2 separate regions of the Homo sapiens genome follow, and region 2 is linked to region 1. The links come from fine-mapping of genetic effects on gene expression. A gene starts in region 1. The other region holds a variant in brackets. All regions are shown on one strand. Distances are between the middles of the regions.

Region 1 (16,158 bases):
GCCAGTGAATGCATGTAAATCCATTTACCATAGAGAAGAACACAGTTCTTTTACTGTTAAAGCCAAATAGAAGAGTCAGTAGTCATGTCATCCAAGACAGAGGCTCTTCTGGCCTTCAATGTACAGAGACATGTTGCATTAAATTCAGTTAAGGGCAACCAATGAAAAACAAGCTACACACAAAGATTACCTCTCACCCCATCATGCAAAGTTTCCATTCAGCAACATCTGGAGACTGCACAGCCCATTTGATTTAAATAGAAGACTCAGAGGCAGAAACCATATTCAGCCCAGATTCTTTGTGAACATAGCTTGTTGCTGAACCAATTCACTCTGCTTCTAATTCACAAATCTTCAGCCCTAAGCGGCATCATTTGGTTCTTATGAGGCACAGAGCCCTTTCCCCACCCAGGGCCTTTGCTTGGTCCATTCTCGCTGCCCGCATTGTGGCTCCCCTGGCTCTTGGCCTGCTGGCTCCCTCTCAGACTTCAGGTTTCAATTAAAATAACAGCCCTTCCCACTCTCCTTACTTCAGAGTTAGTCTCTGACATGGCAGTCTGTTGATTTCTAAGTCCTATTCCAGGGCTTGACATCTCATAGTTGCTTGTTGAATTAATAAATGTTAACTCCAAAAAATAATAATAAATGCTTTCTCCAGTTAAAAAAGTAGATATTACACCGTTTTTTAACAGAATAGTAGTGACAAATAACAATTGATCGCCTTAGCTGGGTGTGGCAGTTACAGCTACTTGGGAGGCTAAGATGAGAGGATCACTTGAGCCCAGGAATTTGAGGCCACAGTGAATTATAATCTTGCCACTGCATTCCAGCCTGGGCAACAGCGTGAGATCCTGTCTCTTAAAAAAAGCCCAGAAGAGTATATTTTAGTTAAACATACACATGCCTGTGATCATCAAATACCAAGACTGTAATGATTAGCTCAAGCTGTTGAGAAGCAGAAGCTGCCTTCTAATGGTGACATGCAGGATGCTCAGGCAGAATTTTAAATGGGTGCCACATTGAATACCTGACCACTCTATTTCAGAACTGTTCCTCCTCTGGATGCTTATATGCATTTATTATCTATTCCATTCACCCATCCAATAAGCACTACTACTGCTTTAAGACTCTTATGAACCTCTTCCACTAAAGTTTAAGCTTCTGGATACCAGGGACAACTCTTTTTAATAATAATGGCAAATACTATTGAGTATCTCTTACGTGCTAGTCATAATGTTATGTATTTTCCTGTATTAATGTATGTGGTGGAGCTTTGACTTAAACCCGGACAGAATGACAGCAGAGCCTGCACACCTACACTTTTCTTAAACCTGGATCTGGGCCGGGCACGGTGGCTCACACCTATAATCCCAGCTCTCTGGGAGGCCGAGGTGGGCAGATCACTTGAGGTCAGGAGTTTGAGACCAGCCTGGCCAACATGGTGATACCCCATCTCTACTAAAAATACAAACATTAGCCGGGCGTGGTGGCGAGTGCCTGTAATCCCAGCTACTCGCGAGGCTGAGGCATGAGAATCGCTTGAATCTGGGAGACAGAGGTTGCAGTGAGCTGAGATCGCACCACTGCACTTCAACCTGGGAGACTGAGTGAGACTCCGTTCTCAAAACAAAAACAAAAACAAAAAACAAGCAAAAAGCCTGGATCTGACACTTCTTAGCTGTTTGCATGACCTTTGGTGAGTTGCCTCAGTTTCCACCTCTGTAAGGTAGGGAGGATAGAGTATCTACCTCAAGGGTTGTTGTGAAGATTAAGAGTTGATACTTGTAAAATGCTTAGAATAGTTCCTGGCACACAATAGGTACTCATTAAGTGTTTGTTGTTTGTTGTTGTTGTTATTGTAACCATTATTGCTTATAGGAAAGTCCCTTGTCTGGGAAACCCTCGGTCCTGGTTTTAGCATGGAAAGTCCCATGGCCTTGGTAAAAGTTCAAAACGGGTCCATATGGCAGGCTGAGGACAGAGAGTCAGCCTGGCGCCCTGGTGGTCACTCTCCACTGTCCTGCATCTTTTTCAGAGCTCACCTCTGAAAAACTGCCCCTTACTCTTTGTAATTGCCACCCTCCCAGTATTTCAGGACACTGTACTACTTAGCCAACAGGGTGTACAGAAATCATATACCTTTTTCGCACATTCTTCTATGTACTAAGCTTGTCCAACCCGCCTTATTCTGTTGTCGTTGTTGTTCTGTTTTGTTTTGTTTTAGGCTTTTAGCAGCCTGAAGCCGTGGTTTTTAGTTTCTGTCTCTAATGAAGCTGAAAAGAGGGATGAGGAAGGGGCTTTACTGGCCCAGCCAGAAACAGAAACTAAGAACCTGTGACTGTATTCAGTCTCTTTAACATCCCAGATTGTAGACCATCACTCTAGTTTCCCCACTTCCTGTTAACTTTTATAACTATCTCTGAACTTTAACAGAACACTATTTTGTGTTTGCAAATAACGTGCTAAAACGCCTTTCCTAGCCGAATCAAACCCTAGCATCTAGTGCCCCCTGCTGCCCTTTCATAGGAAAGGCAAGAAGGATGAAAGTTTGATTCACTGACAGTAAAATTTTTACTTGTCGAGATTTCAATAGGAATCGGTATAAATATCCTAAATTATATTCACGTTTCATCTTTTCTTTGAACCTACTCCTTGACTTGGTTTTTTGTCTTGCCTTTGCGAACATTCATTTTTGCTTAATTATATTTTTCTCATTTATATTTGCTTTCCTTGAATTTCCTTTTGGTTGTTTTGCTATTGCTATTTGAACTTGTTTTGTCTTGGCTCTTTCTCACTTTGGCCATGCCTTGACACAGACGCGCGGGGTCGAGAGGCTGCGGGCTCGGCGGGCGGAGGGCGCATGGGAGCCTCTTGGCCCTGGACCTGCCCCTGCAATCCTTCCGCGGGATCTCTTGGACCCTCTCCAGGGTCCTGGCTCTGAGACGTTGCTAGAGGACAAATCCGCGGGATTTAGAGCGCGGCCAATGGGACAGCGGTGCCTGGCTGAGTGTCAGGCAAAACTAGCCAATAAACATGTAGTTTGGGCAAGGTGGGTCCGTCCCCTAACTCGGACCTTATAAAGCGCGCCCGCTGCTCCCACAAAGCCGGGCTGTCCCAGGCTGAGGCGGTTGCTCCCCTGCCGGGTGTGTTAGAAGCAAGTTAGAGGAAGAAGGTCTTGGGGACTACGGGCGCCACCGAGAACCCATACGAGGCAGCCGCCGACGGCGGGTCGCCGGGGCGGGGCCAGAACGGCGCCAAGGCCAACCAGAACGGCGGCAAGAACTAGGGGGACGCGGGGCAGGTGCTGTGGGAGTTGGCTGGACCTGTGGGATCGACGTCTGCGCCGTCCAGGAGCCGCCCAGGGGAGAGAGCGGAGACTCGGGAGGAGGATGTGCGCTCCGACCCGGGCAAGGCTTCCCATCCCTCCCTTCCTCTTCTCTCCTTCCCTCCACCTGGGCTCGGAGTCAGGATCTGACCGCGGGCTCTGCCCAGGAAGACCGAGTTCCTTGAGAGCGACACCTAAGCGCCGGGGAAGACAGGGATAGAAGAGACGACAGCCCTTTGATAAGAGGGTTTTTAGACTAACTTCCACCTGTGACGAGTGCATGGGGCCTGCGCCCTGAGAGGTTGCCTTTCCTTTTCCTCTCCCACCCTGGGGGTTTGTGGTGATGTTAAGTTCTGTTAGGACCAAGGTGGATCTCAGTAAGGAGGTAGAGTAGATTTGTGAACAGCTGTCGGAGGTAGAATCTTTGCAGACCCAGAGTGGGTGGGTGTAGACACTTTGCCATGGGTGGTAGCTTTATTTGTAATCCTCCCAGTGAAAGCTTTGGGAAATCCAGCCCTCCCAAACTCTTGCCTTTCTTGTAAGACTTTCTAAGCGCATGGCTTTGTCGTAAGACTTCTCGTGGCCATGTGTCTCACCCTACCGTTCGTCTCACCAATGAACCAGAGCTGGGATACCAGCAAAAAGGACCCAAAAGACTGTTTCACCACAATTGAAGAGGTCGTGGACCATCCCCCAAAATGAATCCCAACACTGGAAGACCAAGAGGGTTGACGTTTGCTATCTTGAAAGCTGCAGCCCCCGTAGAGAAGGTAAGCTGTGTATTCCATCAAAGGTCTGTGTGTGCAGGATTGCATTTCCAAGAGAAGGCATTCCTGGATCATGATCATTTTGTCTGAGCTGCATGTGGCCAAGTGCACTGGGGGAAGCAGAGTTTAGGAACTTGTTCCTGTATGGATTAAGTGGGAAGTGAAAAGTATTAAATATATGGGCGGGAGTGGTCCAGGAAGGGGAGAGTGGACATTTAGTACCTGTTTGGGCCCCTGCACTAAATGCTTCACATATAAGGATTAGAAAAACACCCAAAGATTCTTAGATAAGCATTTCAGTGCCATTTTACAGAAGGAAAAACTAAGATGCAGAGAGGATTAAGCAACTAGAAGAGACCACATAGTGAGTAAAGCGTGGAACAGCAAGGATTCCAACCCTGTAGCGCAGCTTTATGTCTGGAGGAAGCAAGTCTTAGACTGGGACTGTCAGGCCAGGAAGAAAACTCAGAGCATGGACAAAAGGTTCAGAGGGAGTGAGGACCGATTTATATGTGTTGAGGTAAACCAGGTGGATTTCTGTTTTGGAGAAAATTGGGAAGTCAGGCTTAGGTAGAGGGTGGTGTGTTTGGAGGGGATAAAATATTTTGTGCACCTGTAGTTTGTGTATTCCACCTGTGGTAGAATCTTGTGGCTCAGAAAGAAAGAACCTGCCTCGGGTAATGCTACTAAGAAATGCCAAACAGAATTAGAACCAGAGTCTACTTAACCCCCTTCTCAGAAGAAATTGTCCAGGTTTTAGCACTGAAAGTCTTACATCTTGGGAAACTGAACCGTCCCAGTTTTAATGCTAAAAGTCCCTCATCCTGGGAAATCCCTTAGCTGTGGTTTTAGCACTGACAGTCCTGCTTCCTAGGAAACTCCTTACTTCTGGTTTTAGCCCTGAAAGTCCCCAAACCCCTTAGTCCTTGGCAAATCTGGATGATTGATCCACTTACCCTTCTGTTGGAACAGATCCTAGAGCAGAAGGAGCACAGGCTGGGCTGCCATAGCATGGACCCCCAAAAAGCCACTGTCATGAAGAAATATCCTGTGAAGAAAATCTTTGCAGGGCACCTGAACTCCCAAAGCCACTGAGGAGAAGGTAAGGGAGTACTTTGGTGAGTTTGGGGAGGTGAATTTCTCCCCAGGATATGGTTTATGCTCCCCACCAGCCACCAGTGGATGCTTTTTTCTGTTTTCCTTGGCTGGTGGAGTTGTCAGTGGAGCTGCTCTCACCTCCTTTCTTGCCTTTGGAGGGCCGCCTTTTCTGAGTTCCCTTTAGGGCCTGAGCCAGGGGAAGGCATTGGCCCTGAGCTTTGCCTGTGTTTCCAGATGGAGGCCATTGAACTTTCAGTGGATCCAAAGTCTAACAAAAGACAATGTCTTGTTTTCGTCACCCCCCAAAGAAGAGGAACCTGTGAGAAATATTCTGGAGAAATTTAACACCATCAGTGGAAGCAAGGTGAGGAGTCTCTACCTCCATGTGCCTCCCCTCCTGCCTCTGGAGAGGTAGCCCTTTGGTTAATGGCAACCCAATAGGGTAACCAACCATCCCATTTTAGCATTGAGAGCATTGTGTCCTGGGAGACCCTTCCCTGGAATGTAAATAATCCTGGTTTTAGCAACAAAGTGTGGAAGGTTGGAGGAAATGCACAAAACCCGTAAGTTTTAGAGGGTCTGAAAGCAACATTGTCTATCAAATGGATACGGCACAGATTATTCATCTTTACTTGTTGTCACCCATTTGACCACTGATACTGGCAACCATAATTTGTAGTTCAGAATGGTCATCCATCCATCGTTGCATCATTCAAAGTGATGTGGCTTAAGTGTATATAATGATTATTAATAGTTCATCTTCGACTTTGCCTGTGGATTAATTGGTGTGCTTTGTAACAAGATAGTGCTAGTTTAATTTTTTAACATTGTGAATATTGTGACCATGTTTTCTAAGAGGTCAGATAATGAGAATGGTTATAATACCAATGCAACCATGACCCCATCACTGAAGAAGAAGGCTAAACGACTATGTAATTTTGATGATGGATGGAAGGACACATACTACTGAACTAGGAAGGTAAATAACCAAAACAGAGCATACTACATAATATACAGAAAAAAATTTGAGATTGGACATGGTGGAGAAGGGGATGTGCAAGCACATATGGAGGGCAAATCTCACAAGTAAGATGGGACAGGTGAATGCTTCTAAACCAATCAAAAATACCTTTGTTTCCCCAAAAGACACCAATGCTCAGTCAAAAATAGCAGCTGCTGAATTAGCATGGGCATACCAGGCAAATAAGCCTGCATTGTCATAGCGTTCCCTTGATTGCTCTATGAAACTGAGTAAAGTTTCATTTCCTGATTCAAGAATTGCAGCTAAAATATCCTCTGGACAAAGAAGAAGGGAAATTTTTTGATAACAGATGTGTTGGCTCCTTACAGTATAAAGCCAATTTCTGTCATATCTCACCAACAATCCTGGTTTCTACAGTACATCAATTTTAAGTAATATGCCAAATCATGGCAGCAAAAATATGTTCCCTCTAGCTGTTAGGTACTTTGACTTGAAAACAGGAGTTTCAAATCATCTTCTTCATTTCTGTGAGGATTTTAATGAAACTGCTGAAATCATAAAATATTGTTGATATTTTGTCTAAATACAAACTAGACTTAGCTCATCTATCTGTGTATTCGTCAGACAGTATAGATGTAAAATTTTGGCAAATTGCATTCAGTCTACAAACTTCTTACCAAAGAAAATGAAAAGATCTTATCCATTCAATGCCTTGTACATCTTATATACAACACTGCTAAAAAGGGATGTGAGTTGCTTAAATGTGACATTGAGACTTTCATAATGAAAGCTTTTGGTTACTTTTCAATTTCCTCAAAAAGTGCAAAAGCACTTATGGAGATTTTTGACTTCACAGAAATGGAAGGTAACCTCTTTAGACGTGTGCCTGCAAGATGGCTGTCATTGTAAGTGAGCCATAGAAACGATGCTAAAATGTTGGCCTGCCATAAGATCATATTTTCAAAGGACAAGAATAATGTCCTTTGACATTGTTTGAAATCTGAAAGGAGAAAAAAATCAAGAATCTGAAGTGGGCCTTAAAAAAATCAGTAAGTCCCTTGTGACTCTGATTTTTATGAATCTGTCTCTCAAAAGCCAGGGTGCCCCCAGAAGAACTGAGACAAACTGAGTTTCTGAACATTTGAAAATGAGGAGCAGGCTCAGGATCCACAGGGTGTAACCATCCCGTGAGGCCCTGCCTGAGCAGCCAGCCAGTCAGTGAGGCTCTTCACCTTACTTCCATTTCTCTGATTCCATCTATGTACAACTTACGAAAACTTGCATTATTATAGACTGGGAGTTCTTAAATTGGAATCTGTGAATCTAAAGGGGCCAGAGGATAGAAATCAGGAAATCTGAAAACTTCGATGGAAAAAAGTTTTTATTTATTTCCATCAGGAAAATAGGCAACAAACCACAGCAGTATTAGTACCTGTGTCTCTGTCATCACTAGGAATCACAGATATCCACGTTACAGATATCTTAAAATATTTATGTACAGCACCACTCTGAAATTATGGTAATAATTAGATCCACCCCCTAGGTCTTGTAATCTTTAATATGTTAATAAAGAAGCACATCTATTATGTGACAGATTTAAATGTTTAAGAATTTGATTTCAATGAAATTGCATTTCAATAAAATTGGCTTCCTTTGCAATCCTGTGTATTTTATTTTGTGCATTTCTCCAGACTGCCAAAGAGGTTGGTGACACATTGAAAGTTAAGAGTCTCTGCTGTGGATCATGCATAGAAAGCTTTACAAAACAGTTGAGGGGAATAGGCTTTCCTGCATCCTTACCTTGGGCTGCAGCCTTTCCATTAGCTGGAGAAGGCAGCAGCTGGTGCCTATGAGTTGAGAGGGCAGTGGTCCCTTTGCCTAAGAACCATCCTGTTCCCACATATTCAAGGGTATGGAATTCCCATAATATTCAAAGAGTTTTTCTTTAGTTTTAGGTGATACGCCTTGAGTAGGAATATCATGAGGCTGTTTCCAGCTTCGAGTATGTTGGTGATAGGGTGTAAGGGATCTCAGAGCATCTAGTCTTGTCCATATCTTAAATCCAGGCACTGAGGTCCAGAGGGGAGTTATTTACCCAGGTCACATCAGATGAAGATAATGAAGTATTCCAAGAGGATTTTAGTTTTATTCCAAATAGGGTAAGTGTTCTGAGAGTGTGAGGAGAGAAGGTGAGGAGGCTGGGGTAAGGATGGGCATAGAAGGGGATGGAAAGGAGGGCTGAGAGAACTCAGAACCAAATTTCAGGCTATCACTTTCTCCACGCCACATTCCAGTGCCTTGCCATCAACTCTTCTGTGAATCTTCAGGAATTTTATTAATTCCCCAGGACCAACTTAGACTTTCATAAGTTAGATGTAGTTATATTACTTCCCTGAAGCACTTTTATGCACAAAGAATAGATGTAGCAAACAAACTTCACAAGATTTAATTTTTGAGTTTCCTTTTTTATTCTGAGGAATTCCGCTGTAATTCTCAGTGACACAGAACCTCTAGAGCTACTTCACTATGACAACCTTCTTCAAATCTCCAAAGGGCTGTTACATAAGGAAGAGGGTCGGAGTTCTGTATTCAATCAAGAAGGCAGAAGATTGAGATGATAAGTTGCTACAGGGAGGCATAATTTAAAGTCAATTTAAACTGTAATCCCAGCACTTTGGGAGGCAGAGGCGGGAGGATTGCTTTGAGCTCAGGAATTCAAGACCATCCTGGGCAACACAGTGAAACCCCGTCTCTACAAAAAAAAAATAGTCGGGTGAGGTGGCACACACCTGTAATCCCAGCTACTTGGGAGGTTGAGGCTGGAGAATCGCTTGAACCCAGGAGGCAGGAGGCAGAGGTTGCAGTGAGACGGGATGGTGCCACTGCACTCCAGCCTGGGCGACCGACTGAGATCCTGTATTTAAAAAAAAAATAAGGTCAGTTTAAGTTTCGTTCCTGGGATTGAGCGGATTGCCTTGCATTAGGCAAGGTTTTAAGTGCTTTCCAACTCTGGAATTCTATACCTTTCCCAGTAGATATCTAAACCCAGCAAATCCTGGGCCTGAAGTTTAAAACTAGGATCCTCGTCTCCCAACCACATCTAGATGATCCCATAGTGTAATGAAGGGTGCTTGGGCTTTGACACCAGGCAAACTTGGATTTTGACCTGGGACAACTAAGTCACTTGACCTCACTGAACCTTAGCTCCCTCCACTGACAGTGGGGACAGTCTGCTGGAGGGTGTGTAGAAGACCTCGGGTTGCCTTTTGGAGGTTCTGGAAATGTCCCTTGAAAGATGAATGGAGTTAATTTAAAAATCTTCGCCTTCTGTAATTTTGGCTTCTTGCAAACACGCTTCCTGCCAGTCCTGCTCCGTCAGGCGGGAGGCAGCAAACCCCAGCCCTGGCTCCAGGACAGGGCCGAAGGCAGGATAGACGGAGCAACGGGTCCGGCTGCCGCCGGGATGTTGCAGCACAGGGCCTCCTGGCTGCCTGGCCTACAGGCCGCCCGGATTCAGCCGGAGGGCATGGACCGGGTGGAGTCCTGCAAGGCGAGAAGGGACACAGCGCATGCGCGCGGCAGGGAGGGCGTTTCCAGGAGGGAGCGGCCTTTGCTCAGCGCGAGACGGCTGGGCGCCGAGTGGGACAGCGCTGGTGCGGAGACTGCTTCCGGACTCCAGGTACCGCGCTTGGCGGCAGCTGGCCCCAGACTTCTGTCTTTTCAGCTGCAGTGAAGGCTCGGGGCTGCAGGTGAGCTGTGCATCCCGCAATGGAGACCTTCCTGCTCTGAATTTTCTTACAAAACTGCAGAAATATAAGGGGCGTTGCTTAGCGGGCATCCCCTCCCCCGCGCCAAACCTGTACAGCAAACGATGATGCAGAGGACCTTGAGGGGATTTTGCAGGGCATCGGTCTTACCTCCGCGGTATCATTTTTCTCCTCCTCCCGAGTTTCTGCCTTCTGGTATCCCTAAATATCCCACCTATCCTGCCTCCTACCTTCCTGGATCTGGGGTGGTGGGGTGGGCTCATGGACCATTGCAAAATGCTTGGCAGGATTTTAACCTTCTCAGCACCACCCAGACCCCACTCGAAAATGTGCCTTTTGTGCCCTCCAAGAGCTCAAGGGTAGGTAATTGTTATATCTTTAGCATGTGAAAATGCTTTTTATGTAACAGTTCACCGAAAATCTCTTAATTCTCCGAATTTTGGAGGATTTGGGGCGGGCAGCGAGGCTGTCCCCTGTCACCTTGTTTTGTACCTGGTATGGTAAATCGTTTTGCTGCATTGCATCCAAGATGCGTTTTAGTCCTTCCAAGGCTTGAGCATCACATTTGTGATGAGAGCGTGTGATGTGCTGTGCACATCCTCTCCCACCTTATCCCTTCCATGTTAACACAGCCTCTGGCTTTAATGTGTGCTTCTGGCCTGGCCACATGGCTCCGTCATGGAATAGGTGATTCTTTTGTCTGAATATTCTCTGTGAGAACAGAATCTTCTTGCAAGCATTGGGAGTAGATTTATTTTGCCTCTTTAGAACAACAGTCAGTTCGCTAAGGAGATTAAGGGGCTACCTGTTTCCTGGCAATAAAGCTGTATTGGGTAGGTCAGTTACAGAATGTCTTCAGGCAGAAGCTGTTCCTTTGGTTCACTCACTCATTTATTCATTTAACAAGTATTTTAAGTACCTGCCTTGTGCATGGCAGGGTTCTTGGTGCTGTGAGGAGGACAAAGATAAACTGAACCTTGGTTTGCCCTCAAGGAGCTTGGCTGGCTGAGAGTTGAGAGAATCCCAACCAAGTAAAAGGGTATGGGTCCTCAAGAGAAGATCGCAGGAAGAGCTGGGGGGCTCAGGATGGAGTGGAATTAATCTTTCACAACAGCTACTTAGCTTTAGGAGAAAATTAGGTCTAGAAGTTACACCTGATAATGAAAGAACTCTCATAAGCTTCAGATCTGTATGTAAGGGTGTTTTCCGGACTGTGTGTTGGGCGTCTCAGACTGAATACATTCTAAACAGGTCCCATCATTCCTAGCCACCTCCCTCTTCCCACCGCCACACACCTGCTGCTGTTCCCATGTTCTCTGTCTCAGGGAATAGCATGAGGCTCCCCGACTCCCTACTTCTCCTAATGGTCTAAGCCAGATACCTAGGGGTGAGTCATCTCTGATTCACCCCTGACTTTCCCTTCCCGCCTCAAATTCAATTCTGATTCTACCTCCTGAACTTCTGAAATCTGTCCACCTTCTCTCCATTCTCATTGCCATTTCTCTAGATAAGCCTACCGTTATCAACTAAGCTCTTGCTTACTTTACTGCAACAGCTTCCCGATTTATCTCCCTGCCTCACTTCACAACCCATCTTCACTACTGCAACTGGGAAGTGCTTGCTGGAATTTAAATCTGATTGTGAGGCTCCCTTCAGTGATCCTTCATTGCCCTTAGGACGGAACCAGACTCCCTTTACGGGGCTTATGTGGGTGTACAGCCCTGTCTTTCTCACCAGCACCCTCTCTTTTCACAAGCCCCTTGCACTTTTCATTTTGAGAACATGCTTTCTTGTGCCATTAGGGCCTTGCACATGCGCTCCCTTCTGCCAGGAACACCCTTCCCTGCACCCTCTTCACTTGACTTATTCATGCTCCCCTGTAGGGTAAATGCACCTGACAGCAATAATTAAAGCATACCCTTAGAATGACCCTGTGTGGCAGATGAACCTGAATGTGTTTTCTGAACTAGGGAACCCAGGCCTGCCCAACCCAGAGATTTATTTCTTGTCTATGAAGAACATCTGAGCCCCTGCCCCACCTGTCCCATAGAACAGGGGCCATACGGGGAATTGAGGCCTTGAATTTTGAGTTAAATCAAGTTGCCAGGTAGAGGTCATTGAGGGGAGGGTGTTAAGTGAAAATGCTGCATAAATTGCATGATGTTTGCAAGCGGTTGTTTTCCTGCCCAGCTCACCACCACTGGACTCCCTCCTCTGTTTGTAAGCCCCTAATGGGTCTCTTTTGGCCTCTTGAACCTGTTGCCTTCCTTATTGAGGTTAATAGGGGTTTGGCACAACATCTCTCCAAGGTCCCAGCTGGGACCCTGTTTGATCTGGGCATCCTTAGGCTCCCAGTCCTTGCTGGGTGCCACTCCTTGTTATGGTACCCACACCTCTCCTCTTAGGGCTCATTCACACATCTGCCTCCTACAGCTGTGTTGTACTATAGTTCCTGGAGGACCAAGGCCATGTCTTAGCACTTACCATTGCTTCCTGCTGCCTTGCCTAAAGAAAATGCTAAATAAATAGCTGTTAAGTCGAATTGACTACAAATATATGTTATAATACTATGGTATGATTCATTAACTAAATTACAAATTCACCCTACCTCAGTTTTCTCAGTGTGCTGAAATAGTAATAGCCTTACACATGTCAAGCTTAAAATAGGTGTAAGGGTGAATGAGAAGAGTAATCATTGGAGCAGCTAATATTTGTTGAGTGCTCAGTATGTGCAGGCACTGTTCTAAGTGCTTTACAGTATTAAATCATTTAATTCTCAGAACAATCCTATAAGGTAGATATTTTTGTTATCCCTATTTTAAAGATGGAGAAACTGAGTTATTGAGGTTCCACAGCTAGTAAGTGGTGGTATCAGGTTTGAAGATAAGCATACTTTATAGCATATGGTTAGCTCCTTTAGAAAGATAATAAGTAGGATCAAACATGAGAAGTTCATGGGGCTGAACATTGTAAGTTACCAGATGGAACACAGTGCCCTGTGGTCACAACTTTAAGCTATGAAGAGCATGTGATTGATCCAGAATTGAAAACTCTGAAGAACATGTTTGGTTTACATGTTCGCTTTTTTTCAGCAGCTAACTCAGTTATCAGAGGTGATGTTGCATAGAGGTTAGGACTGAGACTTCCCTAAGTCAGAGATCTTTGTTTTGCTGTATAACCTTCAGGCATTGCTTGCATTCTCTGTGTGCCACTTTCCTCATCTGGAAAATGAGGATAATCATGACAGTACATACCATAGGGTGTGGTCATGATTACATGAGTTGATACACATAAGGCACCTAGAATGCCTTAGAATGGCACCTAGCACATAGTAATTGCTCAAAAACATTATAACCTCTTTATTATTATTATTTGTTTAGCCATCATTCAGTCAGCAAATGGTTTTTGGACCCAGGTTCTCCCTACATGCTACATCCTACTGTACCACTTCTCGGCCACAGATGAGCTCTCCTGTTTTAATTCTCCTTCCTGCAGATGATGAGCATTTTTCAGTGTTGCCTCCTTTTTGGTGCTGTCATCTCCTGTGCCTCAGCTTCCCTCCCCCATACCCTTCCTCATAGTAAGTTCTAGTGGATGACTCTGAGATCAGCTCAAAATTCTTCTTCTTTTTTTTTTTTTTTTTTTTTGAGACGCCCAGGCTGGAGTGCAGTGGCACGATCACAGTTGATTGCAACCTCTGCCTCGCAGGTTCAAGGGATTTTCCGGTCTCAGCCTCCTGAGTAGCTGGGATTACAGACATGCACCACCATGCCACGTCCGGGTAATTTGTTGTATATTTAGTAGAGAAGGGGTTTCACCATGTTGACTGGGCTGGTCTCAAACTCCTGACCTGAAGTGATCCACCAGCCTCTGCCTTCCAAAGTGCTGGGATTACAGGCGTGAGCTACCTCGCCTGGCCCCTTTTTATGTTCTACATTAATTTATTACCAATTGATAATGGGAGATAAAAGGCCCATTAACCTAAATGATAAGCAATGAGAAAATTGTAAAAATATGCAAGGAATCTCACTTACCATTCCTCACATTTACAAAGATAATTACCTTCCCTGTGGAAGAAATATAGACGTGAGAAAGCTCAGAAATAAAGGCACCACTAGGGGTCTTAGAACTTAAAAAGCTGTAAAGAACTCCAGAACTCTTTTCATCTATTCTCCTAACTTGCAGGGAGAGTTGAGGGTGAGGGAGGGGCATGGTCTGAGGCCCAGTGGCCACATCTCTAGCCTGTGGCTGGCACGCTATCTACTGCATCTGAGAGAATTGTGGGCAGGGTTTCAGTGGAACTTCTCACCACTGGGTATGTTTCAGCTGCTGCTATGATGCACAGTAGGATGTCATTGTCATCCATTTAACTTCATGCTGGGGCTATATTGTATTCTTTAGTGATTTGCCATTGATTAAGTGTGGATGTCTCTGCTACCACAGAAGAGCTATCTTGCAAGGAAACTAATGACAAAGCCATTGTTTAAACTGAATTAGTCAATCTCCAAGAAGACATCCATCTGTAAAGAATGAGAGGACTAATATCTGTACAGACATGAAAGAATTATAAGATGGAATTGTGGAAGTTAAGGAATTTAGAGGAGGAAGAAGGCATTTGCTCCAGATCACTTTGATAGTACAGACTAGAGTCAAGGAAATTAGGAGGTAATTAATAAGGGTAGAAGTCAGGGGAGAAGGTTTAAAGGGAGGTGGCATACAGGGGATAGTCGGGCTTTTGGAGGTGGACAGGGAGGGAGGACATTTCAGGCATGGAAGTGAAAAGTGAAGATTGTAGTGTCACAGTTCAGTGAAGAGACCTGGCTGACCAGAGCAGAAGTTTTATTTGGGTAAGTGGAAAGAATTGAACAGCTGAGAGTATGGCAGATCTTGAAGACAGGCAGAGGAGAATCAGCTTGAGGTACCCCCCAGAGTGTGCTTAACAGTGATGAGGATGAAGGGGAAAGTAGAGGGTTGGGAGAGGTGAAGTTTGAACCTCTTTTTTCCCTTGAGACAGGGTGTCACTCTGTCATCCAGGCTGGAGTGCAGTGGCACAATCACGGCTCATTGCAACCTCAACCTCCAGGGCTCAAGCAATCCTCCCAACTCAGCATCCTGAGTAGCTGGGATCACACGTGCATGCCATCACACCCAGCTAATTTTTTGTATTTTTACTAGAGATGGGGTTTTGCCATGTTGATCAGGTTGGTCTCAAATTCCTGGGTTTAAGCCATCTACCTGCCTTGGTCTTCCCAAGTACTAGGATTACAGGCGTGAGCACCATGCCTGGCCGAACTTCCCTTTCTTTAGTAGACTAGAGAAATTAATTTCTGTAATTCTGTGGAATGTCTTTGTATTAGTCATTCTCACACTGCTCTAAATAACTACCTGAGACTCGGTAATTTATGAAGAAAAGAGGTTTAATCAACTCAACTTCCGCAGGCTGTACAGGAGGCGTGGCTGGAGAAGCCTCAGGAAACTTATAATCATGGTGGAAGGCAAAGGGGAAGCAAGCATGTCTTCACATGGCGACAGGAGGGGGAGAGCACGTGAAGGGGGAAGTGCTACACGCTTTCAAACATCCAGATCTTGTGAGAACTTTAGATCATGGAACAGCACTAGGGGGATGTTGCTAAACCATTAGCAGCCACCCCCGTGATCCAGTCACCTCCCACCAGGCCCCACCTCCAACACTCAGGATCACAATTCAACATGAAATTTGGGTGGGGACACACAGCCAAACCATATAAGCGTATCATTTTTAGATACATTCCCTCCCCAAAACTTTTTTATTTTGTATAATTTGTCCTTTCCCCCTTGCTTTAGAATTGCAACCTTGCCAATGGACCTGATCGGTTTTGGTTATGCAGCCCTCGTGACATTTGGAAGCATTTTTGGATATAAGCGGAGAGGTAAGCCTAACCCAAATTTTCATGAAAGGGAATTAGTGGGGGTTTGGAGGTTGTGCTAGGTCATGTGAGGCTCTGTAAGTAGGATGAGAAGCTAAAGATGCCTTAGAGGTGGCTGAAGACCAGCGTGTCTTGGAAGGGACTCATGAAAGGAAGAGGCTTCCGTGGGGCTGAGCATGACAGAGTGTTCCAACCTGGGGGTTCTGGGCCTCTCTTCCACCACAAAACTCTCACTTCACTTCATCATCAGTTGCATAGTTAATTGATTTAATCTCCCTCAGGACCACTGCTTATTATTAAATGAGGATTTTTT
Region 2 (16,158 bases), 52 kb after region 1:
CTCCTTAGATACCCATTGCCTGTGAAGAGAGGGAGGAATAGTGTTGTAGTGGAACATTGCAATTCCTGCGAGAACTCCTAGGATGGCAAGGGAAGAGGCATAGTTACCAGTTATTTCTTTTTCAGGGAGGTGTGGACACAAGGGGAATCCTGGACAACATAACAAGTACCCTCTGCAGAGATGGAGAGAAAACATGGTGGGGTAGGCTACAGTGGCACACTGTGTCAGCTGGGGAAGAAAGGCTGAGAGGCACTGTGCCCTGAGGCTTCCAGAGGGCCATGGGCAGGCAGGGCCTTGTGCTTCCGGGCAAGTGTGTTGAGAAGTTCAACAGACAGATCTGGGTTTGAATCCTACCTGGCTCTTTATTTGCTAAGAAGTTGCTTCACCTTTGAACTTCACTTTCTCCATCTGGGAAATAGAAATGGTCATACTTACCACCATGGGATTAATGTGAGCATTCAAAGGAAGAATATTCTCAAAGGACCGATCAAGTGACAGGCAAAGAGTAAGCACCCAATATCTGCCAGCTGTTGTTCTGATTTAGGACAAAGTCTTCTCTCCAGGGATGTTTACGTCCCAAAATGATTACTTCTCCTGGTTGATAATTATGCTGGACCAGATGATTGCATTTATGAACATTCTAGAAGGTGGGTCAACCTTGATGATGTTCTGATAAAGACCCTGGGTTGGAGAGATCCTGTAGTGAGTCAGTCTGGGCATTGAGGAAATAAGTTCTTACATTTTTGCCCACATGAATGTCTTTGAGGTGCCCCCAGCCAAATGGAGACTTTTCAGGAAATTTACTAAGATCCATAGTACATGTTACCTAATGTCTTTCTCATAACAGATATGGTTTACTGAGTATTTGTTATGTAGAAGACACTGGACCAAGTAGACAACTTTGGAACCCCCGCCCTGTCCACAATGATGCCCCTTCTCTGAGAACTGCTCTGCCTGTCCCACCTCCTGCATAGGGGTGATGGGCTCCTGCCAGTCATAATTGTGATATATAAACCATACCCCAGCCAAGGTGGGCTTTCCAGGTCCATTGAGTCACCAATTGAAACCAAGTCCATCTTCATCCTAGGAAGTTGGCACTGAGTCTTCGAGCAGCTGCATGTGTGACTGGAACTGAAGCACAAAAGCTCAGCGACTGTGGGACAGACATATTGTGTCACATGAAGAGAGGAACAATTGATAAACAGAGTAAAACAAAACTAGTGGACAGGGAGAGGTGAGGAGATTGAAAGAGGGCACCAAGAAATGTAATTGCAGTGCATCATTGCATTAAACTGGGAAGAGCCTTATGAATCAACTCTTCCTTGGATCTGGAAAGCATGTTGTTCATTATCTGCCAGCACCTATAAAAGAGAAATGAGTAGAACCTGCTCATTCATCAGTTGAATTGCTGTGCTACTTTCTCCAAGGTTCCTTTACAAGCCTAGTACTTACTCCCTAAACAGTGTTTGACAAAAGTGGGTGTGCACACCATCTGAATTGATTCCCTCCCCGCCACCTGCCACTGCAGAGTTCTTATAGTCCCAGCATGCTCCAAACCCTGAGAATAGCTAAATTATGATAGTTATATTGCTTTTCATATCAGCCTTCTAATAATCTTTTTCTTTTCCTTTTTTTCTTTTCTTTTTTTTTTTTTTTTTGAGACAAAATTTTGCTCTGTCACCCAGGCTGGAATGCAGTGGTACGACTTCGGCTCACTGCAATCTCAGTCTCCTAGGATCAAGCGATTCTCATACGTCAGCCTCCCGAGTAGCTGGGATTACAGGCATGCGCCACCACGCCCAGCTAATTTTTTGTATTTTTAGTAGAGATGGGGTTTCGCCATTTTGGCCAAGCTGGTCTCGACCTCCTGACCTCAAGTGATCTGACCACCTTGGCCTCCCAAAGTGCTGGGATTACAGGCATGAGCTACCACACCCAGCCTTTTTCTATTTAAAGGATAAAAACCTATCCCTTTTTGTAGGAAACACAAAAAACACTTCACTCACATATAACATGTCACACATACCCTTGCAGTGGGAGAATGTCTAGAGGCAACCAAGGATTCCATCCACTGGAGCCCCACGCTATTCATCACATTTCCATCTACCCATTGTCTCTCCAAGTTAATTCTCCCAGTTAATAACTGATATTGTACAGATTGTTAAAATTGATTCTAAGCAATGTCCACTCTGGAAAGGAAATGTGTTATATATGGAGAAAGAGATGAATCAGTTTGCAAATTCCCAACTCATCGAGTATCAGATAAATGAAAATGCTGAGACTTTGGAGTTGCAAAAGCCTGGATTTTGAGCCTCAAAATGTGCAAAATATATTCCATGTTCTGATTATCTATTGCTGCATAAAACATTACACCAAAATTCAGTAGCTTAAAACAGTCATTTAAATTTGCTCACAATTTCGTGGTTTGGGAATTGGGAAGGGCTCGGCTGAGTGATTCTTGCCTCAGGTCTTTCATGAAGTGTCAGTCAGATGTTGACTGGAACAGGAACCAACCGAAGGCTTGTGTGTGCTGAGCATCTGAGAGGCTTCCTCATAGGCTGGCAATGGATGCTGCCTTTTGGCTAAGAGCTCAGCTGGAGCTCTTGACTAAAGTACTCATCTGTGGCCTCTGGACATTGCTTGGGCTTCTCACAGCCATGGTGGCTGGGTCCTGGAGGAAGCATGTGGAGAGTGAGTGTTTAGAGACCAAAGCAGAAACTGCAAGACTTCTTCTGATCTAGCTTCAAAAGTCACACGGTGGTATTGTCATCATACTGTTGGTACTGTTGGTTTTAAGTAAGTCACCAAGGTCAGCCCAGACCCAAGGGGAGGGAATTATACCCCACCTCTCTTTAGGAGAAAGGCCAAAGAATTTACTGCTATTTCCAATCAGCAAGTGCCAAAAACAAATGATTTAGAAGAATTGGTGAACAGTGTAGCTACCCTCTGGAAATGAGGTAGAGGAAGAGAGTTACAGGGGGAAGAAAGAGACTGTAGACACTCAAGTTGATAGGAAACCCTTCTCTTTTCTCACATCAGACTCATCAAATTTTGGAGGAGGCAGATAAGACATGCCAGGCTCCCAGTACAGTTTAGGGTATCTGAGACCATGGGAAACATTGTATTACTTCTTGAAAACTCAGATGACTCACTAGCATTAAGTAGAAATGCCTGGGTGCTGTGCCTAGGCTGATAGGCTTGAGACAGCCTCAGAGCTCTCCTTGTTCCAGCAATGTACAGTTCCAAATGAAACAGACCTGGTGGTGTTAATGAAGTGGGTATTGCAGTCATCTGCAAAGACTATCACCTAGAGACTAGATGGGAATGAGAATGTCTTGGCAGGCTCCTGTGTGGACAGATGTCTGTTGAGGACAGGATAGGAACTTAGATGGAACCCTAGAAAAAATTGAGCATGTGTGTTGGGGAAGAGACCCAACAGATTTAGTTGGGTTAAATTTGGTTTATGTTACCTGATGAAATGGGACTCAAAATAGAAATTAAACTCAGTTTTAGAAATATATTTGTGAACTGACTCATCTCTCTCTCCACATAGAACACAATGTTTCGCTTTCAGAGTGGACATTGCTTAGAATCAATTTTAATAATCTGTAAAATATCAATTAAAAAAAGAAAATAAGCCACACAACAAATGCATTTATATCATAGGGAGCAGAGGGAATATTGTCTTGTTTTGTATTCAAAAGTCTGTTCTTCACAACAAAACTCAGTTTTAGAAATATACAGTCTTGCACACTTGAATTTGTGAACCAATTCGTCTCTCTTTCCATTTATAACACAATGTTTCCTTTCCAGAGTGGACATTGCTTATAATCAATTTTAACAATCTGTACAATATCAATTATAAAAAAAAGTAAGCTGCACAACAAATGCATTTATATTACAAGGAGCAGAGGGAATATTATCTTGTTTTGTATTAAAAAGTCTGTTCTTCACAACGATATCTGAGGCTCTGAGAGATCTGAGTTTTAGAATCCCAGAAAGATGGCCTGAATAAGATTTATTCTGAAAAAGCAAGACTGACAATGTTTGAAGCTTTTCTAAATCTTAAATTCTAAATCCAAGTGTCTAGCTTTATTGCCTGGATTAAATATTTCAAGTCAAAATGTCCTGACTTTTAGGGGCTTTTATTGAGTGTTTCTCTCCTAAAATAAAATGAAGCTAGGTTATGAGTGGGTCATCTTCAAAAAGATGTATTATCATTCTGATAATTTGAAGAACATACAATTATATAAAAGTACAAATCAAAACTAAGTAATTTATATGAAACGACTTCAATTAACCATGTAACCAAAAAAGAGCTACAAAGAATTCAAATAAGCTAAGTGCAACGTCTCAGGCCTGTAATCCCAGCACTTTGGGAGACCAATGCGGGCAGATCACTTGAGCCCAGGACTTTGACACCAGCCTGGCCAACATGGTGAAACCCTGTCTCTACAGAAAAAATACAAAAATTGGCCAGGTGTGGTGGTGAGTGCCAGTAGTCCCAGCTACTAGGGAGGCTGAGGTGGATCACTTGAGCACAGGAGGATCTCTTACGGCAGAGGCTGCAGTAAGCCATAATCACACCACTGTACTCTAGCCTGAGTGTCAGAGTGAGACCCTATCCACTCCCCCCCAAAAAAATTCAAATAAACTCAAAATGAAAGTTTGAAACATGAGAAACAGACTGCTAATTTATTTAGAAATATATTTTTCATAGTGTGTGTTCATATGTCTATTATTCTAAAAATTATTTATACATCTAGAATAGAATGGCAAATCTCTAGCCTATTCATTCAAATTAGTATCTATTATTGATTTGAGGTGAGAGAATAATGAGAGTATTTAGCTATAACTGAATAAATCAGGTTAATTCATTTTAAATCATTTTAGTTGTGATTTTGGCTTTAATGTAAGCTCTCGCTTTATTTTAAGCTTAGGATAAATTGAAAATAATTCTCAGTATCTGTGACTTAAGTTTTAAGCATATAGTAAGCACATTCTAGAATATTTCCTGCATTTTTAACAACTGAACTTTTTGCTTGAGAGAAAGTGGTGACTTCCTCAGTCAAATGGCATCAAACAGAGCTCCAAGCAATCGGTATTAATAGAATATCATCTTGCACCAGCTTTCTCTAGCTCTTTCTTTCCTTTTGTAACTACTTCCAAATCTATCTTTTATTTGAGGGAAATTATTAAAAAAAAGACTCAATAGACTATGAACATCAATCATTTCCCTCTACCTATTTGCAAAAAAGGAGAGATGAGAAGTAATTACTCTGCATTTACCTTGTTCTAACCAGAAGAACTTTAGCAAGCAGGCAAAGCTGCTAAGTAGGTAATTTCACAGCTTTCAAGTGTGCCTCTAAAATAAAAAATCAAAGGCAATAATTCCATCTTTAACAGGTGTAAGAATAAAAGGAATTAAATAGACCAGTAATTACATGCCTTTTAAAATTATGTTTATCCTCAGCCTAGGATTCTGGAAATGTATCATCAGTCATCTTGGCATTATGCCTCCATTCTGCTTTCTACTCAAACTGGCTTTTAGTAATGAGGATTCTTGGGCAATTTCAGAGGAAGAATAAAGACTTTCCATTACATTAAAAAGTCAATCCAGTAAGCTAGCACACAGTACAAGCTCATGGTTCCTTGAATATTGAATACATATTTTCTGGTTTATAGAAAATCTTTATATCCTGCTTGTGATATAAAGTGGGATTTTTTTGCTCCCATGAAGATGGTGCCTCGGCACATACTGGTCTCACTTAGAAAGGTCTGCACTTCACTCTCCTTGCAGGACATTGCTTGGCACTAGTTACTAAATTGTTACCAACAGTGGAAAATAAAGCTTTGTAAAATAATCGGAGATAGCTAGATAAGCAAACAAGTTAGTTTATTTAAACTGTATTGAAAAAAAATTAAGCAAAATCAATTCTTTTTGTAAGAAGTCCCAATGACATGTTACATATTAATCCAATGTTTTAAAATTGTGAATCTTAAATCATGGAACTTCATAATTCAGTGCAATTCAGCCCTTAAACATTTGGTACACGTTTTCTTCATGTATGTGTATGTGTGTGGACCATATGTTTAAGTTCAAACAGGCATCCTTATACTGGAAGCTTCATTTTAAGAAAACTTAACATAAAAATACTAACTTATAAAACATGATATTAGAGGCAATTAACCACATTCACAGGTCTGCTTTTAGTTTTGAAATGATTTGGTGAGTTTAAGGGGGATGCTCTTGGAGTATATTTAAATTGTTCTGTTAAAATGTTTCGATTGACATTTACCTTCTCTGTGAGCTGTATCTGGCAAATAGCAGTCTCAGTTATAGTTATGAGTTAGTAGCTGCCCTGTTTGTGTCAGCATAATTCATTTATTTTAGAAATTTTACCAACATTCTTATTGCTATGGTCTGAATGTTTGTGTCCCCCTAAAATTCATATGTTGAAACCTAATCTCCAAGGTGATGCCATTAAGAAGTGGGGCCTTTGGGAGGTGCCTAGGTCATGAGGACAGAGCCTCATGAATGGAATTAGTGCCTTTAGGGCCATTATAAATGAGGCCCAAGGGAGTTTGCTGGCCCCTTCTACCATGTGAGGACTCAGTAAGAAGGCACTGTCTGATATGGTTTGGCTCTGTGTCCTCACCCAAATCTCATCTTGAATTGTAATCCCCATGTGTCAAGGGAGGGAAGTGATCTGATCATGGGAACAGTTTCCCCCATGCTATTCTCATGATAGTGAGTGAGTTCTCACGATATCTGATGGTTTTATGTGTTTGGTATTTCCTCCGCTTGCACTTCTGTCTCCTGCCACCATGTGAAGAAGGGCCTTGCTTCCCTTTTGCCTTCTGCTGTAATTGTAAGTTTCCTGAGGCCTCCCCAGCCTTGTGAAACTGTGAGTCAATTAAACCTCTTTCCTATATAAATTACCCAGTCTTGGGCAGTATTTTTATAGTGGTGTGAGAACGGACTAATACACCGTCTACGAAGAAACAGGCCCTCACCAGACACCTGCCTGAGCCTTGACCTCGGACTTCTCAGCATCCAGAACTGTGAGAAATTAATTTCTGTTGTTTATAAACACCTCAGTTTACGGCATTTTATTCCAGCCACTGAATGGACTAAGACACTTATCCACTAGACTCCAGAAAAGTAATTTAATTTAGTTTGGCAAATCCACACACTATGACTGATTTTCAGTTTTATCTTCATTCTTTTTTTGGTACAGAAGCAGATGGATTTTTCCTCATAAGTTTCAGTTATGCTTTCAAATAGCTGTAGTGTGGAACCATACCTCCCAAAATACTGTGTCTTCTGGGCAAAATCTGCATGGAAGAGGGCCAGCCTTTGGATTCCCATTTCACCTAGAATAAAATCCATACTCCTTGACGGGACTTACAGCAGTGAGTCATCTACCACCTCCCACCCCCCTCCTCAAGCCACACCTCTGCCCTCTACTCTTCAGCCAAGCTCCAGGGGCTTGGGGTACACAGAGACACTGAGTACTTTCTCTCTTCAAACCTGTGAAAATGCTGGTTCCTTTGCCCCAAAACCTCCCTTCCATCTCTTTGCATACTTAGTTTTCTCTCAATTTTTATGTTTCCCTCACCATCCATCTAAAGTAAAGCTCTCCCCAACTACTCTCTATTATAGTCTGATATGGTTTAGCTCTGTCCCCACCCAAATCTTAAATTGTAGCTCCCATAATTCCCACATGTTGTGGGAAGGACCCGCTGGGAGATAACTGAATCACGGGAGCATTTTTCTCATACTGTTCTCGTGGTAGTGAATACGTCTCACGAAATCTGATGGTTTTATAAAGGGAAACCCCTTTCACTTGGTTCCCATTCTCTCTTGACTGCTGCAGCGTAAGACATGCCTTTAGCCTTCCTCCCTGATTGTGAGGCCTTCCCAGGCATGTGGAACTGTGAGTCTATTAAACCTTTTTCCTCTATAAATTATCCAGGCTTGGGTGTGTCTTTTAATTAGCAGCCTGAGAACAGTCTAATACATAGTCCCTGCTTAATTTTCTTCACATCCCAATCATAGGCTATAATTATTGAGATATTTATCACTCTTTCTTTTTTGTTTGTAGTCTGTCTCCTCCCACTACAATGTGAATTCCTTGAGGTCAAAGGCCTTTGTCCCATCTTGTTCAGCACTGTATCTCTGTCCTAGTGCAACATTTTATAGATTAGAACTAAAAAAATTATTTGCTGAATCAATGGATAAATGGAAAAGGCTCTTGCTAGTGATTCTGAAGACCTGGGTTCTAGGCTGATTCTACCATTGATCAGCTTTGTGTCCTTAGATAAATCTCAACCTCTCTGAACCCCAGTGCTTTCATCTGTAAACTAAAGGGGAGAACTAGAGGTGTTGAGTTTTGATGCTTGATTCTTCCTTCTTTGTTTCCTTACAATACCAGAACAACCAGTATTGAGGGCAACCTTAGAAGAAAGCATGCATGGGTCTTGAGGTAGAACAATAGGCTGAGGATGTATAATAACAGAATTTTAACCAGCTTCAGTGCATCCTCATCTCAGATGCATGAGTCCTGGCTTTCACCTACAATACGTAATAGCCACCTTCCTACTGTGTGAGAGCTGCTTCTCCACCACTACTGCCATCCTCTTCCATATCTTCCCCAATATTAGAATGACAAAACTATCACTTGAGGACGTGGGAGCAGCATGGAAAGAAACACAGATCTACAAAGACCCCTTGTTGGAATGTCCAGTATTTGTGAAGGTGTCATGATGGAGAAGAAGTTGATACAGACTGGCAGAGAGCAGTGGGGAGAACATTTCAAGATAAGGAGTGGAGTGCAATGAGTGGAATAGTGGTCATGCCATTCTGGAGGCACATCCAAGTTGCCCTGCTAAATACTGTGTTCACTACCCAATGTCAGCCTCGGTAATCTTTTCATAGCTTTCTTCACAGGACTGTGCTATGGAGGCAGGAGGGCTGTCCTTAATAACTTGTTATTTATTTCAAGAAAATCCTGGCCTTTTGACATGAAGCAGGACTGGGTGGGATCCATGTGACAACATGTTGGCAAAGAAGATATATAAATCATGAAACTAAGAAAAAATGAGCCACAGGAAAATCTGAGCACTAGTGCTTGGTGAAGGGTGGGAGACTGCGGCAGAAAGTTGCTGATGGAAAGGGAGCTTGGCCTGGTATTTGCAGTATAAAAGTTAAAGATAGACTGAGAAAAGACCTTGAAACTCATAGAACTAAGATGATTAGTTCATTGATTAAGAAATTAAAATTTGGCCGGGCGTGGTGGCTCATGCTTACAATCCCAGTACTTTGGGAGGCTGAGGCTGGAGGATCACGAGGTCAGGAGATCGAGACCATCCTGGCTAACACGGTGAAACCCCGTCTCTACTAAAAATACAAAAAATTAGCCGGGCGTGGTAGCGGGCGCCTGTAGTCCCAGGTACCCGGGAGGCTGAGGCAGGAGAGTGGCGAGAACCTGGGAGGCGGAGCTTGCAGTGAGCCGAGATTGTGCCACTGCACTCCAGCCTGGGCGACAGAGCGAGACTCCATCTCAAAGGAAAAAAAAAAAAGAATTTAAAATTCAAGACTTTGAGAGAGGAAGTAGAGCT[A/G]GAATGCAGACTACTCAAGTTTTGGACGTGAAAAGAAAGAAGGAAATAGCAAAAGGGAAAACTAGCCAAGGATAAAGAACTTTAAAAATTTGTTGTGGAGTGTTTCTTGGTTTCTTCTGAGGAGTGTGGGTGCATGGCTAAGAAGGTTAGGACAGTGGAGGCCTGGGCCTGTTTCTAAGCAGAAGGAAGCCTTCCAAAGGACAGAGGCAGCTGAAGAGACCAGCTGGAGAGCAGAAGGATTGTACAGCTTGCTTATGTACATAATAGATTTGTGATTGTTTATTTGCATCTATTGGTTTTATTACTGTATTAGGGGATATAATTGATACTTTAAAATATATGTGTATTTTATATAATGTATTATATGCAATATATTATATATATATGAAATATTGAGACCAGCCTGGCCAACATGGCAAAACCCCATCTCTACTAAAAATACAAAAAATTAGCTGGGCGTGGTGGTGGGCGCCTGTAATCCCAGCTACTTGGGAGGCTGAGGCAGGAGAATCACTTGAACCTGGGAGAAGGAGGTTGCAGTGAGCTGAGATCAGGCCACTGCACTCCAGTCTGGGCGACAAGAGCGAGACACTGTCTCAAAAAAAAAACAAAGTGTACAGAGTTAAGTGTACAACTGGATAAGTTTTTCAGTTTTGTTTTTGTTTTTGAGACGAGACTCGCTCTGTTGCCTCCAGGCTGGAATGCAGTGGTGTGACCTCAGCTCACTACAACCTCCACCTCCTGAGTCCAAGTGATTCTCATGCCTCAGCCTCCCAAGTAGCTGGGACTACAGGAGTGTGCCACCACACCCAGCTAATTTTTGTATTTTTAGTAGAAATGGGGTTTTACCATGTTGGCCAGGCTGGTCTTGAACTCCTGGCCTCAAGTGATCCGTCTGCTTTGGCTTCCCAAAGTGCTAGGATTACAGGAGTGAGCCACCACACCCAGCCTCAATTGGATAAGTTTTAACACACATATACACCTATGAGACTATCATCATAATCATGATACTGAACTTATTCACATCCTCATGCCCTTTGGAAATCCCTTTCTTCTGCCTGGCCCCATACCACTCATCTGCTTTTTGTCACAATGAGTTAGTTTGCATTTTCTAGAAGTTTATATAATTAGAAGCATACAGCAGGTATTTTGTTTGTTTGGTGTCTTTCACACAGCACAATTATTTCAAAATTCATCTGTGCTTTTTTATGTATTCATTCCTTTTTTTATTGCAAAGTAGTTGAATTCTTTTCCTGTGGCCACTCTAACAAATTACCACAAACTAGGTGGCTTAGACAGCAGAAATTATTCTTGCACATGTCTAGAGGCTAGAAGTCCAGAATCCAGAGGTCAGCAAAGCTGGTTCTTTCTGGAAGCTCTAAGGGAGAATCTGTTCCCAGCCTCTCTCTTGGTTTCTGGTGGCTGCCAGCAATCTTTGGTGTTTCTTGGCTTGTAGCTGCATCGTTAGATTCTGCGTCATAGAAATGGACAGTGGAAAAGGAAATACAGAGAGACTCATGGATTAAGGTGAAGAGGATGAGGGAATAAGAAAGACAAAATGGAATAAATTGGAAGGGGTTAAAAGGAAGTGAGGAGAACTTTGCACCTCTGCCTTTCAGTCAGCATTTTTTAGTTGTTCTTTTGGCAATTTACTCCAACTTGGATTTAAAATTTATGAGAAAAAAAGTCTCTGTTCCAGCAAAGGGATTGCCCAACCTACTGTGTCAGTCTAACGCTGACTCCATGACTGAGCACCAGATGGCGCACTGCCCAGAGCCAAGGGACCTCCCTGGTGGCTGTAAAGAGTTCAGTGCACAGACTCAGCCACTCTTAGGTGACTTTCCACAATTGCAAATGAAACTGAGCTCAGCCTACTCAACCTTCCCTTCCTCTTTTAGATCACTGAGAAAGTCTACTGTCCCAACCATATGCCCTTTTTCGGAGCAAAATTTCTCAAAACGGCTGCCGGTAGCTGCTGTCTCCTCTACCTCACGTCCCATTTTCTCCTCAACCCACTCCAGTCAGGCTTGTGTCCCCATCTTCTCTCCTCGGGTCAGCAGTAGCCTCCGTGGTACCAAATTCAATGTCCACTCTTCCATCCTCTTGCCGGACTGTTGGCCTCATGATGCCACACTTTCTTGGACTTCCTTCTACTTCACTGACCCCTCCTCTTCAGACGCCTTCGCTGGCTCCACCCAGCCTTCTCTTCTCCAACTGCTATCTCCCCCGAGGCGATGTCCTCAGCCCTTCTCTATCATCAGAGGTGTAACTTCCAATACTAGGTCATAAAAGACATTGTAGTTTCCCTCTTGCTTACATACTCCAGGGGAAGTTAGCTGCCATGTCCTGAGGACACTCAAGCAGTCCTACACAGAAGCAGGCATGCCAAAGAAGTGAGATGTATTGCCAACTTTCAGAGAGGAACTGAGGCCTCTGCCAACAGCCATGTGAGTGAGCCATCATGGAAACAGATCCCAGTCAAGCCCTCAGCTGACACAGCCTGTTAGTGACTTGATTGCAGCGTCCTGAGAAATGCTGATTCAGAACCACCCGGCTAAGCTGCTCCCAGATTCCTGACCTTCAGAAATTGTGTGAGATAATAAATATTTATTGCTTTAAGTCCCTAAACTTCGGGGTGAGTTGGTATATAACAATTGATAACTAATACACCCATGCTGGCCTCATCTTTCAATACTTCCTCGCCTTGCTCCCACAACACTAGTGTACCTAAAACACACCCAACTTGTTCCTGACCAACACCCTGTCTCATTGTTCCCTCTGACTAAGACCCTCGCTCACTGGATCTTCTGGTTCCTGTCATTCAGGACTTAGTCTTTCCTGGCATTCTCTGTGCCTAAAACAATTCAGGGAACAAAGTAGGTGCTCTATAAACTTTTATTGAATAGAACTATGAATAAAATACTTTAAACAGTATTTATTGGAACCATAATCCTTGAGAAGATTTTGTCAATTTCTGAGGTTAAAGTCTAATTTTTCTGCTAGGTATACTTAGCTGCCCTGTTGACTTAGAATGTTGCAACTGTATTCAAAGTTTCAAAGGACAAATATATTGAAACAGCTGCTGTGTGCAGAGGGAAGGTGAGTAAAGATTGGAGAAAGGTAGGAGGCAAGGCAGAGCAAAGTCAACACAGATTAAATTTGTGCTGACTCACAGCTGCCTCATCTAAGCAGCTCTAATTGGCAGAATGTTGCTAAAACATATTTGTTCTTCAAGAATATCCCAGAAAACTGGCAAGTCAGTATACCTAATGGCTCAAATATTGACCCAATTCCCCCAGTGCAGAGAAATTAATATCCACTTCAGTTATACACACACACACACACATATATATATAAACTCACTATTAAAATGGCGGATGGTGTAAGTATTAAATACCAAATGTTAATTACTTCTTAACAAAAATCTTCATACTTTTATGTCACAGACTACCCAGGAGTGATAGTCAGAATGTTTAACATCTGGTATGGTAAATATAATATATAAATCTGTATATATACCCAAAATTAAAAATAAATTTCCCTTTATTTTCTAGCTATGCTAAACTATATATAGCATAAAATGGATAACACTTTATAGCAAATCAGTAATAAATTATTGTCATAATGTCCAGTCATTTATAAACTGACCGTGTCTTCAGGGCTACTTAGGTTGACAGTGGATCTCTCTCTATGAAAGCCATCAGCTCCTGTTGGTGCAGACTTTTCCTGCAGCTGTGACTCTCAGTGTTTTCCTAGATCCCTGAACTGCTTTCTGCTCTTGTCTCAATGAAGGCCAGGGAAAGGAGAGCCCCAGAGTGCTTCATCATCCGTTGTAGTAGTTTAACCCTTCCCCAGTTTGTAAATAGGTGATATGGTTTGGCTGTGTCCCCACCGAATTCTCAGCTTGACTTGTAGTTCTCATAATCCGCATGTGTCATGGGAGGGACCATGTGGAGATAATTGGATCATGGGGGCAGTTTCCCCCATTCTGTTATGATAGTGAGTTAGTTCTCACAAGACCTGATGGTTTTATAAGGGGCTTCCCCATTCTCTGGGCATTCATTCTCTCCCTTGCTGCCCGTAAAGAGGTGCCTTCTACCGTGATTGTAAGTTTCCTGAGGCCTGTCCAGCCATGTGAAACTGTGAGTCAATTAAACCTCTTTCCTTTATAAATTACCTAGTCTTGGGTATTTCTTCGTAGCAGCATGAGGTCAGACTAATACAATAGGTATTTCATTAAACTTTCTTCAGCCACTCTTTTTGTTTGTTTGGTTGGTTTTTTTTGAGATGGAGTCTCGCTCTGTCACCCACGCTGGAGTGCAGTGGCACAATCTTGGTTCATTGCAACCTCCACCTCCTGGCTCAAGCGATTCTCTTGCCTCCGCCTCCAGAATAGCTGAGACTAGAGGTGTGCGGCACCATGCCGGGTAATTTTTGTATTTTTAGTAGAGACAGGGTTTTGCCTCGTTGGTCAGGCTGATCTCAAACTCCTAACCTCAACTTATTCACTCGCCTCAGCCTCCCAAAGTGCTGGGATTACAGGCATGAGCGACTGCACCTGGCCTCTTCAGCCACTCTTTTTGAGTGGTCATTTTGCCACCTGCAGGAACTTCTTTAATACAAATTTACATATTGACTCGTAATTCTTTATATGCAAATCTTTTTCCTTGGGGTTAATTATGCACCCCTCAAAGGCTAGGATTATTATACCTTATTCATCTTGTATTCCCAGCAGCAACCATTGTGAGGTAAATCTTACAAGGTTCACTTCAGGATGATAATAATAATAATAAATTATAAAATATCTCTTGTAAACTGGGGAAGGCTGGGTATGATCAGGTTGAAAACTCTATTGCAGAGTGAGAGTATAAGAGTCTACCGTTGGGATATTTATCTGCTGAAGAGGGAGCAGGTAAATGTGCAAAGGGAACTGGGAAACTCTTAGGAAGATATCTTGGAATATCTTGGTTGGTCTGAATTGACCTAACCCTCAGTAGACGTAGAAGACATGAGCCATGAGTCCCATGTCTCTGTCTGTCCTAACACACCTAATTGTGGCAAAGCTCACATTATGAAAATGTGCAATCGGGACCAGTGCCCTGGGTCTAACCCCCTAGATCTTAGATTTTCTGGGGAAGCATAAGTTATGGGCTTAGTACATGGCTGAAGCTAGAAATTGCTCCATCCTCATCTCTCCTGGACAGTGGCATGCCAGAGAAAAATGACTCTATATATCCACCTACATTTTGAGATCCCAGGCCTGAGGGATAGCAGGGAGGGAGACTTCCTCTTTCTTCTTGTGAAGGGACAGAGAATGAAGATTCTGGGACTCATGTGGACAAATTGTGGCCAGTGTTTCAACCAAACCGCCTCAGATCATGAAGTCTATGGGACAACAGGAACTCCATGTGGCAGATAGCAGCAGAGACTGATAGAATTTTCTACTGGTGTCAGGGCTACTTGACTCCTTGAATGGAATAAGCCCCTAGGTTGTTGGATTTAATGTGGGTATTAATTAATTAGGAGGCCAGTAGGCTGAGATGTCCCCAGTGCCTTGAGTCTTATGTAAGCAAGCTAAAGCTCAACTCAGCATGAAGGTCATATCCTAGGAAAACAAGAAACTTAAACTTAACCTATCAGAAACTGCCAACTAACTTCTAACTAGTGACTTTTCACCTTAACCAAGCAAATATTTTCTTTGTTTTGCTTCCATAAACACGTTATCAAAGTTCTCCCCTCACACCCCCTCCATGAAGTCCAAATTGCTTGTGGTTTGGCACTGCCCGATTCATGAATGTCTGTCTGCTCAAAATAAACTCTTTAAAATTTTAATGTGCCTACGTTTATCTTTTAACATAGGAAAGAGACTCCCAGAGGGAAAGAATGTTCTTGCTATTCTGAGATGGATGCTTAAGTGACTGAAAATGAATATTTAAAAGCTGTGATTTTATTTTATTGATGCCAGTTTGGCAAAGCAAGTTGTATACTTCCACAGCTCCCTCTTTTCTCAGGACAAAATTCAAACTTCTTGTCATGGCCTTCAAAGTCCTTAGGCCTGCGGGCCTTGTTCCCGGATCCTACCTCATCATCACTCCTGCTACCTCGTGCTTTAATGCTTCACTCAGACTGTCTTCTCTTTCTTTGAATACACCTTGCTCAGTCTCTCTCTTTTACACCATTAACCGTGCTGAGCCTCCATCAGGATTCCACCCCTGCTGCCCAACTATAGCTCTACCTCATAACTGCAACTCGTCTTGCCTGCAAATCTCAAGTCAGATATGACTGCCCTCCCTGAGAATCCACCTCTGACCCATGGAGTCCAGCTGAGGTGGCCTGACCAGGTGCACCCCCAGCATTATCTCATCCCTTAGCATGGAGTTGTGAGTTAAATTTTGTTCCCCAAGAAGAGTATGTTGAGTATGTTCAAGTCCTAACCCCAGATACAAATAAGGTCTCTGGAGGTGTAATCTAGTTAAGATGAAGTCACACTGGATAAGGGTGGCTCCCAATCCAATTCCTGATGTCCTTATAAGG

What was found.
Region 2: its variant is fine-mapped to the expression of TMEM14A in aorta (GTEx, PIP above 0.99).

The regions. Positions count from the first base shown.
Region 1 is chr6:52,661,325-52,677,482 of GRCh38, forward strand. TMEM14A (transmembrane protein 14A) reads left to right here and starts at 9,789. Exons shown (of 5, transcript NM_014051.4): 1 at 9,789-9,921; 2 at 15,763-15,848. The coding sequence starts at 15,779. It overlaps LOC730101 (a long non-coding RNA gene), which reads left to right and starts at 3,077. Exons shown (of 3, transcript NR_024405.1): 1 at 3,077-4,095; 2 at 5,065-5,194; 3 at 5,425-7,829. RefSeq lists enhancers at 1,836-1,935, 2,867-3,161, 3,533-3,652, 9,005-9,505, 9,494-9,653 and 1 more and a silencer at 2,867-3,161.
Region 2 is chr6:52,713,229-52,729,386 of GRCh38, forward strand. No RefSeq gene overlaps it. Among named protein-coding and RNA genes, the nearest start is that of GSTA2, 42 kb to the right of the region's middle. RefSeq lists an enhancer at 1-786 and silencers at 9,215-9,329, 11,378-11,427. The variant A/G (reference allele first, on the strand shown) is at 9,625.